Linked DNA regions of Homo sapiens: region 2 is linked to region 1. Evidence: fine-mapped expression QTL. A gene starts in region 1. The other region holds a variant in brackets. All regions are shown on one strand. Distances are between the middles of the regions.

Region 1 (2,916 bases):
ACCTTACCCACAGGATTTAATACTTACTGCTGAGTTCTCCATCCTCAGATACTCCTGTCCCTCTCATTCCTAGGTAAGTCAGTCCCAGTATTAGGAAAAATAAGCAGGCAGCAGTTAAGAGAAACATCGACAAGTAGTGGGCACTGAAACTCCCTGTTGGGGACACCTCCTCCCGTTTAAATTGCTGGAGAAGTTCCTCTTCGGGTTCGGAAAGCTTCGGTTTGTTGTATGTGTTTTTCAGGTAGGTATGATTGGAGCCCGTATGATTGGCGTGATTGATCCTGAGTGAACTAGAGGCGGCCACCGCCGCACTGGGAGGGAGACTGTTAGAATAAATCCTGGGGGAGTCCACACTGAAGGCCCCACCGCCAATATGATTATTGGTTTTCAGAAGGGAGCCTGTTGACGAATCCAAGGTTGAGTCCATGTCAGTAAGTGGCGGGGGCAGGAGAGGGGTCAGTTTCTTAGCGTTAACACGGTATCTAGGAACGGGGCTGGAGTCCACTTGATCACACCCTCCTCCCTGCTCCGCGGCCGCCGCCTCTTCGAGGTTTCGGCTCCTGTCTAGACTCCCGGCAGCCGCCGCCCTGTCATTCATCGCGAGTCCTCCCCCTCCCTGAACTGAAGTCTCCAGCCTGCCGCCGGCCGATTTAGCAGTCAGCGGGGGGAGAGGCTTACTATGGGTTCGTCTGGGCCGATGCCGGGAAAGGGAGTCGTCCTTTAATACCTGTCTGCTGGAGGCCACGTCGTCGTCGTCCTCTTCCTCTGAGTCCGAATAGTTTTCCCGGCAGCTGTAGGGGACAAGCCGGCTGCCATTCACGGTCCGGCTCGCCCAGAGCGGCTCCTCGGTCTCCGGGTCCCTCTCCTCACCGTCCTCTCCCTCCCCTTCCTCGTCCTCCACTGCTCCATCTTTCCCCGGCGGGGTCTGCAGCTCGGGGCCCGCCGGCCTCCTGGCCCCCCACCACGAGTGGGGCTTCCTTCGCTCTGCAGAGTTGCTGTTAGTCACCTCGCTGGCGGCCAGGGGCGCCGGCGGCGCTTTGAGCCCGCGGTACTGGAGCGAAGCCCGGTCTTTCCTCCCGCCGCCGCCGGCCTGGTCCCGGGGACTGGCCTCCACGTCCGACTCGTCCGAGCTGAAGCCCAGCAGCACTTTGCTGCCAGCCGCGGGGGCGGCGGAGGCGCCCCCGGGCCCTCCCAGGAGGCTCTCTGGGCCAGAGGCCGAGATTCGGCACAGGCCCCCAGGAGTCCGTAAGTAGGAGAGGTCGCCCGAGACCGGCCGGACCCCCATCCCCGCGGCCGCCGCCGCCGCTGGTCCCGCGGCTGCGACCGTGGCGGCTGCCGTGTTATTGTTATTACTGTTCCGCGTCTTGTTGCCGCGGCCCCCTGACCGGTGCTGTTGCTGCTCTTCCTCTCGAAGCTTCTTCAGCTTCTTGAGGTAGACCGGGCGGGTGCTCTCCGTCACTGGTCCGGGAGACAGGCCGTAACGGCGGAGCTGAGAGAAAAGCTCCTCATCCGAGAGCTGCTGAGGCGCCGAAGCTGCTGCCGCCGCCATTTTCTCTCCAGGGTGTTTTACAAGCTCCGCGCTACCGGAAGTGACGCGCCGCCCTAGACCCTGAACTAGACCGCGCTGCGTCGCCCTCCCAGCGCCGCGGGCATCTCGGCCAATGGGAGGCGCGGGAGGAGCTCACCTGAGCGGGAAAGAGCCACCTGAGCAGCGCGCGGCTCCCACGGCGGAGACTGTTTCTACTCTCTCACCTTGAGGTGTCGGCGCATTCTCCCCCTGCTCTCTATCTCATCTCCAGCTGTTCTCCGCCCTGCCCTTCCAAGTGCCGTTCCCGGGAGCTGTCTCTTACTAAACCACACCTTGACCTCACCTTCCTAGGTTCCTGCCACCGGGCAGTAATAACTGAAATCTACCTTGAAGTTTATGGCGTAAGTTTTCTTTACATCTGGATTCCCAATGCCGAGGGAGCCTAGACCTACTGAAAGAAATTCTGCTGGCCAGACTAGATTGGCAGCTTTCCCGTCTGACTTCAGGTTGTCTATTTTCAGTTCGTCTTTAGCTTGACCTACCAAAAAAAAAAAATTTTTAAGTGACTTTCTCTCGCTGCTCTTTTTGAGAAGCCTCACCTCTCTCATTCTGAGAAGATACGGAGTACACCAATCACAATACAATTTTCTTCTAGCGTAATGGCTGTTCATTCATTAGTTAATTGTAAGATATTATCTTTTTTTCCTTTTTTGAAACCTAATGACTTTACTACGTCAGCACTTGAAAGTGAAAGAGCTTGTCTGCTTCATTCTAAGACTCTCAGAGACATAACACATGATCCTATTTATTTCCTTCTTAGCACCTTTCCAACCAATAGTTATTTATCAGTTATTAATAAATATTTGTTTACTTTCAAAATTATTTATTGTCCTATCCTTTTGGACTATAATAAGCTCCATGTGTGGAGGAACCTTGCTTCTGTTACTCACAATACTAGTAGAAGCTCAATAAATATTTGTTGAATGAATTAAAGAATTGCAAAGAGAGGATAGTATGAGATGAATATTTTGAAATAAGACTAGTGCCAGGTGAGGTGGAGAAACCTTCACACAAAGTCAAAAAAACAAGGACAAGACCTGGAACCCCAACTCTGCCATTTACAGAATAGGAAATGAATCCCAGAGAGGTGAAATGTGCCCCATGTGGTGAAGATCTTGTCCCATTTTCCCATTTCCCCAAACCTTGGCAGACAGACAATTCTTTAGTACTTCAATCCTAGTAGCTACAAAATACTACAATAATTTTTTGTTGTTGAATGAGTTATTTTACCTATTACATTACCCTATACACCTGTACAGAAAAACGTTAGTCAAAAGCATAAATACGGCCGGGCGCGGTGGCTCACGCCTGTAATCCTAGCACTTTGG
Region 2 (2,916 bases), 58 kb before region 1:
ATTGCAGAACATAGTATGGTGGATCCTCAAAAAATTAAAAATAGAACCACCATATGATCCAGCAATCTCACTACTGGGTATATATCCAAAGGAAAGAAAATCAGTAAGTGAAAAGAGGTATCTGTACTCTCATTTATTGCCGCATTATTAACAATAATATGGAATCAACCTAAGTGCTCATTAACAGATGAATAAAGAAAATGTGGTATATATACAATGGAATACTATTCAGCCATAATAAAGAATAAAATTATGTGATTCACATCAACACCGATGCACTTGAAGAACATTATGTTAAGTGAAATAAGCCAACCACAGAAAGACAAATACCATATATTCTCACTTGTGGAAGACAAATGAGTTAGAAGTCCAAGTTAAGGACTACTAAGAACTTGGCTTATTTTACCTTTGGGGAAACTAAAAAGTTGATCTCATGGAGGTAGAAGAGAATAGTGGTTACTAGAGGCTAGAAAGTGGCAAAGTGGCAGGTGGAGGGTCTGTAGCCAGAGGTTGGTTAAATGAAATTATAACTAGGTAGGAGGAATAAATTCTAGTGTTCTATAACACTGCAAGGCAACTATAATTAACAATTTATTATATATTTTCAAATAGCTAAAAGAGCAAATTTTGAATGTTCCCAACACAAAGAAATGATAAATGTTTGAGGTGATGGCTCATTTATCCTGACTGTATCATTACACATTGTATACATGTATCAAAATATCACACTATACCCCATAAATATGTACAATTATGTCAATTAAAAATAATAAAAGTGGCCAGGCACGGTGGCTCACGCCTGTAATCCCAGCACCCTGGGAGGCTGAGGCGGGCAGATGACGAGGTCAGGAGATCGAGACCATCCTGGCTAACATGGTGAAACCCTGTCTCTACTAAACATACAAAAAAATTAGCCAGGCGTGGTGGCAGGTGCCTGCAGTCCCAGCTATTTGGGAGGCTGAGGCAGGAGAATGGCATGAACCTGGGAAGGAGAGCTTGCGGTGAGCCGAGATCTCGCCACTGCACTCCAGCCTGGGCAACAGAGCAAGACTCCACCTCAAAAAAA[A/T]AAATAAATAAATAAATAAATAATAACAATAATAATAATAAAACACAAAAAGCTACAGTTCATTAATATCTTTTTTTAAGTAGATATAAGCAGTTTCCAATTTAACTCATGCAAGAGTGCTTCTAGTAACTTTTTTGCTGCTAGTCTTCAGTAGAATTAATCTTATACTCTATTGCTGCCTGGCTTAGACTTTGACTTACCCCAACCCCGCATCTGTGTCCCTTCTTTTTAACTTGTACCATTGCTGACCCACAGCTACAAGAAAATGGTTGGAAGAAGTGAAAGAGAGGTTAATAATTCCACACCAACCCCTGCCTCTTCCTCAGCTCCACCTTAATTACTGGTCAGGTCCTATCTTGTCCCCAGTCCCTATCCCATTTCTTCAGTCCTTCAAACACAGTACAGTCAGTCCTTTTATCCATGGGTTCCACCTCCATGGACTGAAATACTGAATAGAGTCAATATAGTCTATCATGAATCAAAAATATCTGGGAAAAAAACAGATGATTATGTCGGCATTAAATTTGTACAGTCTTTTTTTTTTTCCTTATTATACCCTAAACCAGGAGTGTCCAATCTTTTGGCTTCCCTTGGCCCCACTGGAAGAACTGTCTTGGGCCACACAAAAAATACATTAACAACAGCTGATGAGCCAAAAAAAAAAAAAAAAATCGCAAAAATTCTTATGTTTTAAGAAAGTTTACAAATTTGTGTTGGGCCGCATTCAAAGCCATCCTGGGCTGCAAGTTGGACAAGTTTGCACTAAATGATACAGTATAATAATAACTATTTACATACAATTTACATTGTATTATCAGTAATCTAGAGAAGATTTAAGGTATATAGCAGGATATGCATAGGTTATATGTAAATACTACAGTATTTTATATAAAGAACTTGAGCATCTACAAATTTTTGTGTCCATGGGGGTCCCGGAAGTAATCCCCAGATACCAAGGAAGAATTAATCCTATTTCATATGCTTTAAGAGTCTCAGCATTCTTCTGAAAAGCAATGAAACTTGCTCCAGGAATTTATGACCAATCATAACACAGATCTACGGTATTACCTCTCAGAGATCAAATCTCAGAGGTTTAACTACCTAACAAAAAGAAAACAGGAAAGAAACACTGAATGGGATAAGATAGTCCTACTACTAGAAGTGAAAACCCATTCAATTATTTTATAAGGAATAGTTTGCTTGCTTTGGATTCTCACTATGCCTTTCTTCATGGAATATTTTATTCTATGTCTCCTTTAGCCTCAATCCAATCCCTTTTTTTGCCTGCACCCTGACATTCGTCCATCCCATAACACTGAGCCCTATAATCATAACTCCTCCTTAGTCAAGATCTTTTTGAATTCTGATCCTTTAACTGTCCAGTCTATTAGCTATTACACTATCCATAAATTTTACTGTCATTAATGTTCTCATCTAGGTCAAAATTGAAAATAAAGACAATAAACAACCTTAAACAAAATTTCTGTGGCATGTTATTAGAGATTACTCGCTAGAGTGGCACTGATTTAATTAGAAAACACAGAAATTGAATTTATTGGGAAGCTACTATAATCATCAGGCACTGAGCTAGGCATTTTATATACTCAAGTCTCCCAACAACTTTGACAGGTATTAACGGCAGTCCCACATTCACAGAGAAACATGTTCAGAAAAGTTAGAGACTTTACCAAAATGTAATAGCTTCTACTGGCAGTACCAGAATTTGACTCCAGATATAATCTCCTTATTATACTGTCTTAGGATCTTTTTGGTACCTACATATAAGTCATGCATTAAGTTAAAAACTCAGTCAATATTTCTCTTTGTTGACAAGCATAATCACAGGAGAC

The links. PIP is the estimated chance that this variant, and not a neighbour inherited with it, causes the effect.
Region 2: its variant is the best candidate, but not a certain one, in a credible set for the expression of LEMD3 in whole blood (INTERVAL, PIP 0.77).

Annotation. Positions count from the first base shown.
Region 1 is chr12:65,168,230-65,171,145 of GRCh38, reverse strand. It overlaps LEMD3 (LEM domain containing 3), which reads right to left and starts at 1,563. Exons shown (of 13, transcript NM_014319.5): 1 at 28-1,563. The coding sequence starts at 1,549. LOC124902953 (a long non-coding RNA gene) reads left to right here and starts at 1,730. Exons shown (of 2, transcript XR_007063349.1): 1 at 1,730-1,929. RefSeq lists enhancers at 406-485, 1,396-1,545, 1,228-1,800, 1,986-2,045 and silencers at 479-682, 1,066-1,275.
Region 2 is chr12:65,226,557-65,229,472 of GRCh38, reverse strand. All of the region lies in intron 4 of LEMD3 (LEM domain containing 3), which reads right to left. Among named protein-coding and RNA genes, the nearest start is that of MSRB3, 51 kb to the left of the region's middle. The variant A/T (reference allele first, on the strand shown) is at 1,067.